2 separate regions of the Homo sapiens genome follow, and region 1 is linked to region 2. The links come from fine-mapping of genetic effects on gene expression. Tissue or cell type: whole blood. Region 2 holds a variant in brackets; the other region holds the start of a gene. All regions are shown on one strand. Distances are from middle to middle.

Evidence for each region. PIP is the estimated chance that this variant, and not a neighbour inherited with it, causes the effect.
Region 1: TRMT1L starts here. The variant in region 2 is fine-mapped to the expression of TRMT1L in whole blood (INTERVAL, PIP 0.99).

The regions. Positions count from the first base shown.
Region 1 is chr1:185,152,899-185,161,084 of GRCh38, forward strand. TRMT1L (tRNA methyltransferase 1L) reads right to left here and starts at 4,055. Exons shown (of 15, transcript NM_030934.5): 1 at 3,580-4,055. The coding sequence starts at 3,814. SWT1 (SWT1 RNA endoribonuclease homolog) reads left to right here and starts at 4,269. Exons shown (of 19, transcript NM_017673.7): 1 at 4,269-4,416; 2 at 7,935-8,027. The coding sequence starts at 7,944. RefSeq lists enhancers at 3,143-4,048, 3,892-4,001 and silencers at 3,552-3,801, 4,542-4,661.
Region 2 is chr1:185,210,307-185,218,492 of GRCh38, forward strand. It overlaps SWT1 (SWT1 RNA endoribonuclease homolog), which reads left to right. Exons shown (of 19, transcript NM_017673.7): 14 at 4,201-4,349. Among named protein-coding and RNA genes, the nearest start is that of SWT1, 57 kb to the left of the region's middle. The variant G/A (reference allele first, on the strand shown) is at 4,089.

The sequences.
Region 1 (8,186 bases), 57 kb before region 2:
GCTGGCAATTTGTTTTTGGAGCTCAGGAGGGATTCTAGAGATACAAATCGTAAGTAACACATTAGGTGAAACTATGAGAATAAATAAGAAAGCCTAAGAAAAAAAGTGTGAAAAATAAGAGAAAAAGCCAAGACCCAGTCTTACCTAGTTATGACTGATTTCAAACAACCAACTAGGCTATGTAAAATTAATTTTAAAATGTGATTTATATTTTAATTCTAATGCATTTCAAATTTCTCAATCATTACATATTTGTCCCACTAATGCATTTTCAGGTTTCTCAAGCATTACACACTCTTCAAATTAAATTAAATTTGGAAATACATGAATAAGTCTAAAATAAGTTTAACATGTTCTGACTGGGGTGGGTAGGGGATACATTCCCTACCTGTTGCTGAACCCGCTACTGATTATTATAGATAGATATAATCTGGTAGTGAGGTATGAGAGATGTAGATATTTATAAGAAAAATTAAGTAGAAGGAATCAGGAATGTAGATTCAGAAAGAATAAATGGTAAGGGGAATCAAGGTAATGCAGAAGCCAAGGGAGAAGAGTCTATAAACGCAAAACGTTCAACACTGAATATCACAAACAGTTGTAGAGATCAAGAAAGCACATCTGGTGACCTTTAAGAAAACAGGTTCAGGGAGGTGTTTCAGAGTAGAAACAGAATTGGAAGGGGAAAGGAAATACAGAAAATTAGGTTTTTCTTTTTTTGAGAAGTTTGACGGTATAAAAAAGGAAATGAATCAGACTGTAACTTGCTTTTTTTTAAGTATGGGGAACCTGAATATATGTGCATTCCAAGAGAAAGGAACAATTACAAAGTGGGGACTGAATATATATTAAGATTAGGAGAAACTGATATGTAAAGAGCCCAAGGAGACAGGAGATGGTGGGATAAACCACAGGGCTCTCTAATATTATGTTATTAGGTTATACAATTTAAAACCTTGAGACTTTAAAATTCAATTCTTGATATTAGCACCTTCTTGACTACTCCTCTCCGAGCTTCACTATCAGTTCGTTTACCCATTTGTATAATTTGTGTCCTTGTTCGCTTTCCCCACAAATAATCAACAGAAGACAAGGCCTATTTCTTGTTCATCTTTCTGATGGCTAAGTGCCTAATGCAGTAGCTTGCAGATAGGAGGCACTAAAGTTTGTTAAACAAGAAGTTAAAAAAATTGTTAGACTTTTTGGATGCAGTAGCACACTGTGTCAATAATTTTGGAATCCAATTCAGCACTATCAGACACTCCTGCTCAAATTTATTAAAAGGTAATTTTTCATATTATTATTATTTAAAGATGGGTCTTGCTCTGTCACCCAGCCTCCATGGAATGTAGTGGCTCAATCATAGCTCACTGCAGCCTCAAACTCCTGGGCTCAAGCAATCCTCCTGCCTCAGCCTCCTGAGTAGCTGGGAGTATAGGCTGGTGCCTGGTTATTCACCTCATTTTTAAAGAAGCAACAAACAATATTGGTTAATTTCCTATATCAGATACTGGTCAAATGAGTTATAATGAGATATAATTTCTATAAACAGGTAAAACTTCTTCATGTTTCATAAAAATCTTTTGCTAGGTCAGACAGCAATATTCCAGAAATGAATCCATGTGTACAAACTAACCTATCTAATTTGTAACCATAAAGGCTTTTGGTTCCAGAGTTCAAAGATCTGTGTATGTAAAACAAGATAAACAGCAATCAATAAAGACGTGCCTATTGAAATTATTCTATTAAATAGCACAAAATAAGAGAAAGGAGCTTGGTTAAGTTAGAAAACTAAAAATCCTGTGGTCTACTACTGAAGAAACTCTTGAAGATCTGTTTAAAAATGCATGATATGCCTATAAACATCTCTGAAATCACCTTCTGGTTTAAGATAGTGCGTATCAGACAATCTGTATGCAAAATACTCAATCTGCTTTTTGTAACACACTATTAATCCAGAAGTCAACAGGCAAACTTCTTGTTAAATTAGATGTCTCCAAGATGCTAGGAGGGTCTTTTACAACTTATTCTATTACTTTTTCCTCAATTTTCAATTCTATTTCAGATAGGCTATCTTCATCTTACCTAGTTATGACTGATTTCAAAGGACTAACTAGATCAACTAAAAATAATGTTTAAAATGTGATTAATATATGTATTAGTTCTAATGCATTTCAGACTTCTCAATCATTACATATTTGTCCTACTAATGCATTTTCAGTTTCCCATATAGTATACCTTCTTCAAATTACATATTTGTAAATTTTGGAATATATAGATAAGTCTTTTCTATGTTTAACATATTTTTGATGGTGAGGAGGTAGAGAATGCATGCATTTCCCAAAGCTGCTGAACCACTTCTGACTAATATAAACAAATACAACTTCGAAGTGAGGTAGGAGGCTACTTAGGAGGGTGGAACCCTCTCAGCTCCCCATGCCTCCCCGATCCCTACCCACTGTAGTTGAAGAAACAACTGGCCTTATTTTGTACCTACAAGCTCTGATCTTATATAATGAGAAGGGGCTTACCTGAAGCATTCTGACTTTTGTCTTTCCTGTGATTAGCCCTACTCTGAAATCTATAACAATTTGTATGTTGTTTCAAAACTGCAAAATAATCCTATCTATAACTATCTAACCTTTTATAAATATTAAACTCAAAACTGGCCTAGAAGTAGAAAAAATAATGAATTAAAGATTATTTTAAGTTCCAATTCAGAAAGCACATAAAGGTCAACTTATGACCACAAACTAAATGTTAAAAGAACTTAAATTATGTCTTTCTTAGACCTTACATTTTAAAATGTTAGAAGATCCTTAAGAAAGTGTTACTCATCAGTCTTTTAAATTCCTATATGGTCCAATAAACCACCACTTAGAAAACATGCAGGCACATTCAGAAGCACAATAATATGGGCCATTAATTCTCAACAGTCTATTTCTGATGGAATGGAGTACAAAACTCAATTGGTATTTATGTATGGGGGAAAACATCCGTAAATTTAGTCGACTCTTTCCTAAACTACTACTCAGCCTCAAAATCTTTTCGGAGGCAAGCTGCTAGCGGGGGAAAAGAAAACTGAAATGAGAAAAACTCATCTCCTTGTGGCTGTCGAAGCAGAAAAGCTAGTTGACAGTAATGGTTTAGAAATGTTGGCAGCTAGGATCTACTACCGTAAACAGGTTGCCTCGGTTACTATGTCACATTTGAAAGAACTTAGTTAACCATGGCAGACTGGACTGCGGGAAACTACCAAATTATGTGTAACTTCCTATTTTTGTACCTTAAAAAGACTCCCTTTTAAGAAAAAGCCCTTAACCTCATTATTTCCTTCTATCTGCAGCATTCCTGCTCTCCGCATATCCCTCACCGTGACATCCTCGAGGCTTATGAAGATGCCGTCTCCCATTCTGTAACCCTGCTTTAGCCGCTACACGGGCCCCTCTTTCCTCCCCACCATTTTCCTAAACCTGCCTTGCCCCATAAAAACCATCCCGGTGAAGGGCCTCCCCTACTTCCCAGCAAGGCGCACTTTCTCTCTTCTGCAGCAGAAAGATCTGGGCCTTCTGCACTTACTGCTTTTAGCCTCCTCAGGGGCAGAGGCTAGGGACGGGGACAGGGCCGGAGCCTGGGCCAGGGCAGGGGCTGGGGCTGGAGCCGAGGCCGGAGTCGGAGCCGAGTCCAGAGCCGAATCCGGGGCCGGAGCTGGGACCCCAGCCGAGTCCCGGGCCGGGGTCGGGACCTGGACCTGGGCCACCTCCACCTCCTCCTTCTCCAGGGGCAGCAGCTCCTCCTCCGCCATATTCTCCATAGTTACCGCCTCCGTGCCAAGCCCGCCCGGGGACCCGGAGCGGGGCTCACGGCGGGGTCAGAGAACTGACGTGAATGCCCACAGGGCTGGATCCAAGGAGTGGGGAAGCAAGTGGGGAGGGCGGGATGCGTGCAACAGACAAAAGATGAAGAACCAGTGACCAAATCCTGTTAGTAGAAAACAGAAAGCCAGAGGCAGCGATTCCAGATGCCCGTCCGCTTCCCTTTCCCCGAGGCGTTACGACGCCACCACAAACTGCGCAGAAGCGTACTGGGGACGGCGTCCAATTGGGTAAGAGGGTTCGGTTTCTACGGTGCGTCTCCGGCCCACCGGCCAACCACCAAACCGAACAAAGACTACAGCACCCAGGATACACTGCGCAGTCTGGGGGCGGGGCCGGAGTTCAAGCCTCGGAGGAAGTAAATGCAAATCTAAGCGAGCGCTGTGGGGCGGTGAGTAGGTAGTGCGGATGCGGGCGCAGAACTACGTTTCCCAGCAGGCATACAGTTGGTGGGGCGGGGTGTGTGTGTGTGTTGGGAGGCGGGGGTCCCTCTCCTTTGGCTTGGGGCTCCGGAGTTGCCACTGCCGCCGGCGCTGGTAAGGTAGGAACTGCGGGGTGCGTTGACGTTTTGCTGGGCAGGTTCCCCCTCGTCCCCCGCCCCAAGTATACTGGCGGGCGGGCGGCCGGCCGGACTGGGGACTCAGGAGTCACACGGACCTGGGCGGGGCGACTCTGTGGGCGGGTCCGGGGACGAGCCAGCTCCGTGGAGGGTGTGGTTCTGGCCCGGCTTGCCTCCGGGGCTGCCCCTTGCCCGGTGTTGGGGTCTGGTCGGTTCGTGCGGAGCCCGCGGGCCCGCGGCGGTTTACTAGCAGCTGACGAGCTTGCCTGTCCATCCAGCTGACTTGGAATTAGGGTCTGTTCTTCATTTCGCACCCTCACCTACACCGTGACCCGAACACTCTTTTCCTTTGTTTTTATTTTTGCTTTAGTCTTCATGTTGCCAGTATCAGCAGTTCTGCGGTGTGGCCAGTGGATAGAAATTAGTTGTTTTGCTCTATTTTGCTTTGTTTTCAGGCTTTTAATAACCAGAGCTCTGAGTGGGTAGAGCTTCGGGGCATTTAATTTTGATGCGTTTCAGATCCCCAAAACATATGCTAGCGAGTCCCCTGTCCCCCGTACTTCTCTCCCCTTCACTCTTAGTGCCTACTTGACATTCGAGCCTTTCTTGTTTCTTTCTTCTGTCCCCCCGCGATAAATCCACTGGGACAGAAAGGAGAAAAACGTGAACTTTCTGGCTGCCCTGCTTGGGCTTGGTCCGAACCTTCTAGGCATCAGGGCAGGAGAGGGAAGCCCAATTTAGTCTCAAGAACAAGACGCGCGCTTCCAGTTAGCTTTTCTTAGTTAATTAAGTTGATAAACGCCAATCTTCTTGGTCTATTTGTTTCCTACTTGTTTCAGAACCCCGGGGAAGAGATAGCATGATTATTTGGCACTTTGAAGCACTAACTGGAAATTAACTCCTCCCCCTATAGTTAAGAAGTATATATCTGGAGGGGTGTGTGTGTGTGTTTAACCTCTCCCCAGTTTAATGGGAACAGATTATCCCTGTGGAGCTTCTGTGAGTTATAGTCCTAAATCCCTTTTACTGATCGTCCCGTACAGCTTTTATCTAGTATTCCTGAATGTGTAGTTGACTCATGGCTCAACAGTCAATTAAAAATGGGATAACACTGACTATAACTTACAGAAATGCTAACTATATCTGTGCATCATCCAATAATTCTTGTTCTCATTTCTTTTTTTTTTTTTTACTGTCGTTCATGATGATTTTTTATTTCTAAATGACTAGATGGTTAACTGAAAGCTAGATTCAGTATGTTAATGTCATTTAACACCAGCTGGAAACCAGATTAAAAGGGTCAGATTTTAGTGTCTGGATTCTGTGGGAATTTTTGTAAGAATTTCTAAGCATGGTCTGTGCTTGTAAGACATCCTGAAGAAGGAATCGTCAATGTTTGAAGAATTAAATAATGTTATTCATCTATTGCTACTGCATAAGTTATACCAAAACATAGTAGCTTAAAACAACAGTAAACATTTATTACTCCACAGTTTCTGTGGGTCAGGAACTCAGAAATGACTTTCTGGGTTGATCTGGCTTTGGGTCTCCTGAGGTTGCAGTGAAGATATGTGCCAGGGCTGCTGTCATGTCACTTGATTAGGGGTGCAGGATCATCAGCTTCAAAGGTAACACACTCACATGCCTGGCTGTTAGTTGGTTCTGGTTGTTGGCAAGATGCCAGTAGTTCTTCCCTTGCGAGCCTTTCCATGGGCTGTTTGAGTGTCCTCATGACACTCTGACTTTCCCTAGAGTGAGCAGTCCAAGACAGAACAAGGCAGACGTCATGATATCTTATATGATTTAGCCACATACCACTATGTAGCAGTAATATCTTATTGATTACACAGGTCAGCCTTATTCATTGTGGTAGCAGATTACATTAAGTGCATGATTACCAAGCATCAGGAATCATCAGGAGCCATCTTGAAGACTGGCCAGCACATGAAGTCTCCCCTCATTTATGTTTTGATTTGCATAAAATCAATAGGAATTTCACACTAGTATGAATATACAACATTTGTCCGAATAAACATAAACATAAGTGTTTTTCTGGGATAGTCCACAATACTGTCATCCACTAACAGTATTGACTTGGTCCACAGCAGGGCTGGAAAAGTGAGACGGGGATGGGAGGTGGACAGAGGAACTACAGTGAGTGAATTGGAAGTGGTTCAGAATGAAAGAGTTAATATTCCAAGGAAGAAGAATTCACTCATTTATTCACTCAGTAGGCATTTATGAGCACCTAAGTTTTTAATACGGCACACTCAAGGAGCTCAGTGTCTAGTAGAAAGACAACCATACAAGCAAGTATGTATGTAGACATTACTGTGTACCAACCTATGCAAGATGTATATGTACATATATATATGTATTTTAATATTTTTTTATATTTTTTTAAATTTTTGAGATGGAGTTTCGCACTTGTCACCCAGGCTGGAGTGCAGTGGCACAATCTTACTCACTACAACCTCTGCCTCCCAGGTTCAAGCGATTCACCTCCCTCAGCCTCCTGAGTAGCTGGGATTACAGGCATGCACCACCACACCTGGTTAATTTTGTATTTTTAGTAGAGATGAGGTTTCATGATGTTGGCCATGCTGGTCTTGAACTCCTGACCTCAGGTGATCCGCCTGTCTCGGCCTCCCAAAGTATTGGGATTACAGTGAGCCGTGGTGCCCAGCCACAAGATATATTTTACATCCATTGTTTCAGTACCTCAAAAACCCTGTGGGATGGGTTATCTATTTTACAAGTAATGACACAAAGACTTAAAAAAAGCATGTGATTTGCCAAAGTCTTGTTCAATGAATGACTGAAGGTATTTTGGGAAAATGAAACTTATGACTAATTGGCTTTGAAGTGTGGGTGGTGAAGAATATAGCAGTCCTGGAGGCAGTTGAAAATGGTGATCTGATGCTTAAGTGAGAAGTCAGGGATCAAGGCATGGTTTGAGACTCATTCCTGGAAAGGTGATAGATGAAGCTGAAGGAGAGGAGTGGGTAATTTTGAAGGAGAATGAAAGTGAAGAAAAGTGGAATAATGAGAGAATCTTGTCATATTGGGAATGGTTAAAAAGTAGTAATCATAGTGCTGGGAGTGGTCACTCACACCTGTAATCCCAGCACTTTGGGAGGCGGGTGGATAACAAGGTCAGGAGGTCGAGACCAGCCTGACCAACATGGTGAAACCCTGTCTCTACTAAAAATACAAAAAATTAGCCGGGCATGGTGGCACATGCCTGTAATCTCAGCTGCTCAGGAGGCTGAGGCAGGAGAATTGCTTGAACCCGGTAGGCAGAGGTTGCAGTGAGCTGAGATCATCCCACTGCACTCCAGCCTGAGCGATGGAGCGAGACTCCATCTCAAAAAAAAATAAAATAAAATAAAAAGTGATCATATTGTAAAACTCCAATCTTTATATAACTGAAAGAAGACAAATTTCTATTTTCTTTTTGAGTGCAAAAACAAATCCTATATTTTTAATGTTTATGTTAGCTTTTCAGGATGTCCAGCAAAGAATCCTGTGGGAAAAAAGAGACATCTCAGAGGAAAGACACCACCACCTCATCACCCAATTTTGGTGAAAAAGTAAGAATTTTGATTTACTGACCTAGAGATACATTTCAATTTATTTTTGCTTAATGAAAAAAATACACCTTACTATTATAATGATTTATGTAAATATTTTGTTCTGCTCAGCCGATCCAGGAAAAGTCATTTGCTTTTCCGGTTTTTTACTTGCATTGT
Region 2 (8,186 bases):
CCTGAATGGTATTGCCTAGGTTTTCTTCTAGGGTTTTTATGGTTTTAGGTGTTATGTTTACATCTTTAATTCATCTTGAGTTAATTTTTGTATAAGGTGTAAGGAAGGGATCCGGTTTCAGCTTTCTGCATATGGCTATCCAGTTTTCCTAACACCATTTACTTGGACAAAATTCAACAGCCCTTCAAGCTAAAAACTCTCAAGAAACTAGGTATTGATGGAACGTATCTCAAAATAAATAAATAGCTCTTAAGCTGTGTATGACAAACCCACAGCCAATATCATACTGAATGGGCAAAAGATGGAAGCATTCCCTTTGAAAACCAGCACAGGACAAGGATGCCCTCTCTCACCACTCCTATTGAACATAGTATTGGAAGTTCTGGCCCGGGCACTCAGACAAGAGAAATAAATACAGTGTATTCAGTTAGGAAAAGGGGAAGTCAAATTGTCTCTGTTGCAGATGACGTGATCGATATTTGGAAAACCCCATCATCTCATCCCAAAATCTCCTTAAGCTGATAAGCAACTTCAGCAAAGTCTCAGGATACAAAATCAATGTGCAAAAATCACAAGCATTCCAATAAACCAAGAACAGACAAACAGAGAGCCAAATCATGCGTGAACTGCCATTCACAATTGCTACAAAGACAATAAAATACCTAGGAATACAACTTAAAAGGGATGTGAAGGTCCTCGTCAAGAACTACAAACCGCTGCTCAAGGAAGTAAGAGAGGACACAAACAAATGGAAAAACATTCCATGCTCATGGATAGGAAGAATCAATATAGTGAAAATGGCCATACTGCCCAAAGTAATTTATAGATTCAGTGCTATCCTCATCAAGCTACCATTGACTTTCTTCACAGAATTGGAAAAAAATACTTTAAATTTCGTATGGAACCAAAAAAGAGCCCACATAGCCAAGACAATCCTAAGCAAAATGAACAAAACTGGAAGCATCACACTGCCTGACTTCAAACTATACTACAAGGCTACAGTAACAAAAACAGCATGGTACTGATACTAAAACAGATATATAGACCAGTGGAACTGAACAGAGGCCTCAGAAATAACACCACACATCTACAACCATCCAAATATCTATTTTTATAAGTTACCAATTTTTTAAGGAACGGCACTTTCCTGTCATTGCCTTCAGTTGTAGAAGTTGTTTATTAGGGATATGATTATATGAAGGACATGGAGCAACATATTGGACATCTCTCCAAAGCGGTTTTATAAACAACAGGTGCTGGAGAGGATGTGGAGAAATAGGAACACTTTTACACTGTTGGTGGGACTGTAAACTAGTTCAACCATTGTGGAAGTCAGTGTGACGATTCCTCAGGGTTCTAGAACTAGAAATACCATTTGACTCAGCCATCCCATTACTGGGTATATAACCAAAGGACTATAAATCATGCTGCTATAAAGACACATGCACACATATGTTTATTGTGGCACTATTCACAATAGCAAAGACTTGGAACCAACCCAAATGTCCAACAATGATAGACTGGATTAAGAAAATGTGGCACATATACACCATGGAATACTATGCAGCCATAAAAAATGATGAGTTCATGTCCTTTGTAGGGACATGGATGAAACTGGAAACCATCATTCTCAGCAAACTATCGCAAGGACAAAAAACCAAACACTACATGTTCTCACTCATAGGTGGGAATTGAACAATGAGAACACGTGGACACAGGAAGGGGAACATCACACTCCAGGGACTGTTGTGGGGTGGGGGGAGTGGGGAGGGACAGCATTAGGAGATATACCTAATGTTAAATGATGAGTTAGTGGGTGCAGCACACCAACATGGCACATATATACATATGTAACAAACCTGCACATTGTGCACATGTACCCTAAAACTGAAAGTGTAATAATAATAAAATAAAAAAAATAAAGCATGTAGAATCTCTTTTCATATCTTTTACCTGGGTCATAATTTAGTTGATCTTTTAAAAGAGAAAGTCCGTAAACTATGTGTGATCTCAAAGTTAGTGTAAAAAATGAGGTGTCTAGTTGCCATCTTCCATCTGTTTTTCCTGGCAGGGGGGTCTGCTCTTAGACGCAGCTGAGAGGTGGTAGGTGGCAGCTCTAACTGCCATTAAGGAGAGAAGTGAAGATGTGATGACTGTATCTTCTGCTGAAAAATCAGTTTTGTGATCATTATAGTTTATTGGTCTTTGATCTCGAAGAATCTGATGCCTAACGTTTAATGAGTTATGAAGAATATGTCATGGGATTATAAAAGTACCTCTTGCCAGGAGTTCATTGCCAGCGTGGCCAACATGGTGAAACCCTGTCTTTACTAAAAATCCAAAAAAAATAGCTGGGCGTGGTGGTGGGTGCCTATAATCCCAGCTACTCGGGAGGCTGAGGGAGGAGAATCACTTGAACCCGGGAGGTGGAGGTTGCAGTGAGCCGAGATTGCGCCATTGCACTCCAGCCTGGGCAACAAGAGTGAAACTCTGTCTCAAAAAAAAAAAAAAACTTCTTGCTGTAAGATAATTTTGAATGAGAAAAATCACAGTTTATGTTCTTGTGTACTATCTTTTAATAATACCTTCAGCTGTTGAATTATATATTTGTTTAACTTGAGAATACCACGCATGTATCCTTAGATTAGTTCATAGAAAATTGTGTGGAAAATGACTAGTAACTTTTATGACTTTGTTACCCATATTAGCTTTAAATAATTATTGGCCTTATATAAGCATTAGACTATTTCATTCATGTAGATTTCTTTTTTTGTTGTGTCTGTATACTGGATTTATTATTGTTATTACCCTTTTCCTCATAATCTTAGGAACTTTTGTAAGACAGAAATAAAATGATTAATTCATATATGTAAGCCTCATTAAACATATGTTACATTGGAAAAGCACCCTTAAAAGAAGTTGTGTCCAATTATATCTTCCTCAGGGGATTTACGTAGTTCATCACATCTACAGTCTGTCCTGTGTGTAGCATCTCTCATTACCCACAGGAATTTAAACTAGTCATTGGCTTTAAAAAGAAATGAAAGTTTTCCTGTAAGGAAATACATTGGCTTGCTTTATTATTATTTTTTATATTTTTGGATAAAGGAGAAGCCAGAGGCTTGGCTACAACCATTACATTAGATTAGAGTTTCTGAATATTGTGGAATTAATTATTAAGATATAGTTTTTATTTCACTTGACCCTTCAGGATTTCACAAGCAAGTTCTTGTGTAAGTGATACAGAGAAACTCCTTATTGTTTTTTAAACTCATAGTGCCATTGAACAGCCATGCTGATATTTCAGAATACAATAGAGTCTCTGAAACTGTGAACATTAAAACAAAAAGTAAACAACAGTATAGCATGGTTATTTTGAAAACTGTTAGGTAGCATTCTGCTTTAATAATGGAAATAATTTTTTCTGTTCTGAGTTTTATGATATTACTTAATTTTATTGTTTATAACTTTTGAAATTTTTGAAATTATTGTCACCAGCTTTCCCAACTAGTTTGAGAAGTTAATGTAATTAGTTTTAGTTCCTTGAGATAAAATTGTTATACCTTTAAATTATTGTTTGTAGATTTTCTCACTTTTAATTTACAGGAAAAAAATTCTGCAGGCTTCTTTTGCTTCTCACTGTTGCCCAAACTTTTTTTCTCTCCTGAAGTTGTGTTGTACATATAGAGATAACTCATAGTTTTCAATAAACATAGTATTGAGTTTCATGCAATGGAGTTGAAGATAAATCACTATGTAGATAGCTGAGGTGATGACGAGAGGTACCATATATAACTGACATGCTTACCAGTGTAGTCTCACTCTTCTGATCTCTCCACAGTACTCTTATGTGAAATCACCTCAGCATTGAAATCTGTGGTTTGACTTGTTTCTTTGGTGATTTTCTCTTTTTTCTGGGGAGTGTAATATTCTTTAACTTTACTTTTACTTTGAAGTTGACCGTGCTGACAGAACTCCTGAAATCTGAATTCAGAATACCAGAATCAACTCAAAGGACTTTATCTATAACTAAATCTATTTAATTATTGCTTTTTGTACCAGAGGGATAACTTAGGAGTGGCATATAG[G/A]TATAAATGTATACTCTTTTTAAATTTCAAAATTAATATTAGTGTTCCAAAGACATTTTTATGATGTATACTCATTCTTCCATATTTTTCTGTCTTAATTTTCTGTTACCAGCTAATAAGGCAGTGGATTTTACAACAGTCAAATTCTTGCTTCAGGATTCTAGAAGTTTGTTACATGCTTTCAGTACAAGGTCAAATTATGATGGTATTCTTCCACAGACCTTTGCTCAAGTAAACAACCTCCTTCAGACATTTGCAGAGGTAAGATGCCTTTGGAATGCCAGTTAGAGTAGCTAATTATACATGTTCTGAAAATGTGTTTAGCAGACAACAGTAGGTAAAGGATAATTTAATTCTAACTTATTCTAACATACTAAAGGCGTTAAGTAAATGTTAAGTGAATTGAATACAGAGTAAGCAACTCTAACAAGTTATAAAACCCATACCTCCTTTTATGGAAGCAGTGTCACAGCAGTTGTTCTTATTTTATATTATTTTCACTTATGGATGGAAGAAAGCTATGCATGCTATTTGACTGTTCATTTACAGTGCCCTAGGCCAGTGGATCTCACATACATCAAAAATACCTAGGAAATTGTTTTAAACATACAGATGTCAACACTGTCTGAAACCCTATTGAATCTATTTTTTGACAGTGTTACTTGGTAATGTTGTTGTCCTTGTTTTACTTTTTATTTTGAAATAATTTCAAACTTATAAAATGGTTACAAGAGCAGTACAAAGAATTCCCATATATATTATTTACCCTGATTCTCCAAATGTTAATATTTTGTCACATTTGCTTTATTGTTTTCTTTCTCTACCTACCCACCTGTCTGTCTGTCCATCTATCTACCTATCTATATTTTTTTCTGAGCTATTTGATAGTATGTTGCAGATAGGATGCCCTTTTTCCCCCAGGTGCTCTTTTTCCCCAAGATATTTCCATATGTATTTTCTAAAAATAGGGATATCCTATGTAACTACAATATAATTAATCATGAAATTAACATTGATACAATAGTTATCTGTGAACCTTATCCAAACTTTGCCAATTTGTGAAGTTTTTAACAAGTTTCATGTGATTCTTATGCAGCCATCTTAGCTGATGCCTTTTTATCTCTTTTAAACTTAACTCTCTAATTTTTGTACCCAGTAATACAGACTTATTTTTTTGACACAGGGTTTTACTCTGTCACCCTGGCACGATCAGGGCTCACTGCAACCTCCACCTACTGGGCTTAAGTGATTCTTCCACGTCAGCCCCCCGAATAGCTGGGTCTACAGGCATGGCACCACCACACCTGGCTAATTGTTCATATTTTTAGTAGAGGCAGAGTTATGCCCTAATACCTAGGCTAGTCTTGACTCCTGGACTCAAGCAATCCTCCTGCCTCAGCCTCCCAAAGTGTTGGGAATACAGGTGTGAGGTACTGTGCCTGGCCTCTAATTTCAAGTCTAGAAAAATCTGAGAGTTTTATGTAGCATAAACAGCTCAAAAAACCTCAGTTATCACTATTACTAAAAGAGATATTAATGGAACTTTTATCCAGTATAGATATTATGTTCTCTTTTTTCTCTGAGGAACTGAATTGTCCAGGTTTTTCTCATTGATTTTTCATAGTCAGATAGGTCCCCTGCCTATGAAGTAATCAAAGGATTAGATGATACTAACATTAATCATAGTTGATGAGGAAAGCACTTCCTTGCTAAGAGAATACTTACTTCATGGAGTAAAGGAAGCAGCTTTTTAAATAAACTGAGTGGAAATATGTGATCATTCTTGAGGAAAGAATTTATTTAAGGGGTGATATGATCTTTTGGTTTGAGATGACCAAAACATTGGTAGTTTTATTTTTTTAATGGCAAGCGTGATTTTTAGAACTATTAGTAGGAAAAAATGGGCCTAGGGATTTAGAGGGTTATAGCATGAGTATTGTACCTTGATTGTGTTGGAAAAGATGTGTTCTCCTTTCCCGTCACAAAATTGAGTCCTAAATCATATCCTTAGTGAATAAAATGTGGTGAACAGATGGAAAGTGCAAGATACTTAAAGTCTTAACAGTCTTTTAATTAAGATTATTGAGAATAAAACAAAATTTAGGATTCATTGAAATAAAAACAATAATGTGTAGTTTTTAATCCTCTTCATCGATAAAAACCTACAGATGGGAGGTACCATGAAAATATGATGTTAAAATTTTGTATTGTTTGTCAGATAATGATATGCCTACTACGTATATGTTGCCCATTGCATACTTAAAAGTATTGACTTGACTGGGCATGGTGGTTCATGCCTGTAATCCCAGCACTTTGGGAGGCTGAGTTGGGTGGATCACCTAAGGGCAGCAGTTCAGGACCAGCCTGGCCAACATGGCAAAACCCTGTCTCTACTAAAAATACAAAAATTAGCCAGGCATGGTGGCACACACCTGTAGTCCCAGCTACTTGGGAGGATGAGGCAGGAGAATTACCTGAACCCAGGAGGCAGAGGTTGCAGTGAGCTGAGATCGTGCCACTGCACTCCAGCCTGGGAGACAGAGCAAGACTCCATTTCAAAAAAAAAAAAAAGAAAAGAAAAGAAAAAAACCAGTGACTTGTTAATAAATTATTTATTTCTGGTTCTTAAGTTTCATTTGCTACGTTAGCAAGAGATTCATGAAGGCGAGTAGCAAAGAATCTAGCATCCTAATAGTGCTTTCCCCTCAACACTTGGCTTTAGTGTGATTACTTGAAACCATCCACGCTGTTTCCAGGATTAGAACTCTGAAGTGTTGCACCTTTATTTTTGTGTTAGAAACAATTCATTGAGTAAACGAAGAACTTTATGATTTAGTATAGTCCTTTAAAACAGGGGTCCACAACCCCTGGGCCATGACTGGTATTGGCATAGCAGGAGGTGAGCAGCGAGCAAGCAAGCAAAACTTAATCTGTATTTACAGTTGCTCCCCATCACTCACATTACTGTCTGAGCCCCACCTTTTGTCAGATCAGCAGTGGGATTAGATTCTTATAGGAGCATGAACCCTATTGTGAACTGTGCATACAAGGGATCTGGGTTGCATGTTCCTTATGAGAATCTAATGCCTGATGATCTGTCACTGTCTCCCATCATCCCAGATGGGACTGTAAGGTCAGGGCTCCCACTGATTCTACATTATGGTGAGTTGTATATTCCTTCCCTCCCTCCCTCTTTCCCTCCCTCCCTTCCTCCCTTCCTCTCTAGAGTTCTCTGTTGTTGCCCAGGCTGGAGTACAATGGCACGATCCCAGCTTATTGCAACCTCCACCTCCCAGGTTCAAGTGATTCTCCTGCCTCAGCCTCCCAAGTAGCTGGGATTACAGGCACGTCCTACCACACCTGGCTAATTTTTGTATTTTTAGTAGAGACAGGGTTTCACCATGTTGGCCAGGCTGGTCTGGAACTCCTGCCCTCAGGTGATCCACCCACCTTGGCCTCCCAAAGTTCTGGGATTACAGACATGAGCCACTGCACCCAGCCAATTATTTCATTATATATTACAATGTAATTATAATAGAAATAAAGTGCACAATAAATGGACTGTGTTTGAATCATCCTGAAACCATCCTCCCGCTTACCCGTCCATGGAAAAATTATCTTCCACAAAACTAGTCCCAGTTGCCAAAAAGGTTGGGGACTGATGCTTTAAAATATACTTTTAACAGGAGTTGTTTTATAGAATGTATTAGATTTGATATATGTCTTATATATTTGGTCATGTCTCAGTAACTTGAGCAACAAATAGATTACCTCCAAAGATATGGTATCTCCTAGTAACTGTAAAAACTACCTAATCTTAATTTATTAAGTGTAGAAAATCAGGAAGAGAGGAATATTCATTATTTGATTGCTTTGAGAAACTAAAATGGAGATAAACTAACTTTATCATTTTCCAGATTTTTTTTTGGGAGACAGGGTCTCGCTTTGTAGCCCAGACCTGAGTGCAGAGTTGTGATCATAGCTCATAGCTCTCTGTGACCTTGACCTCGTGTCAAATGATCCTCCAGCCTCAGCCTCCTGAATAGCTGGAACCACAGGCATGTGCCACAATGCTGAGCTAATTTTTAAATTTTTTTG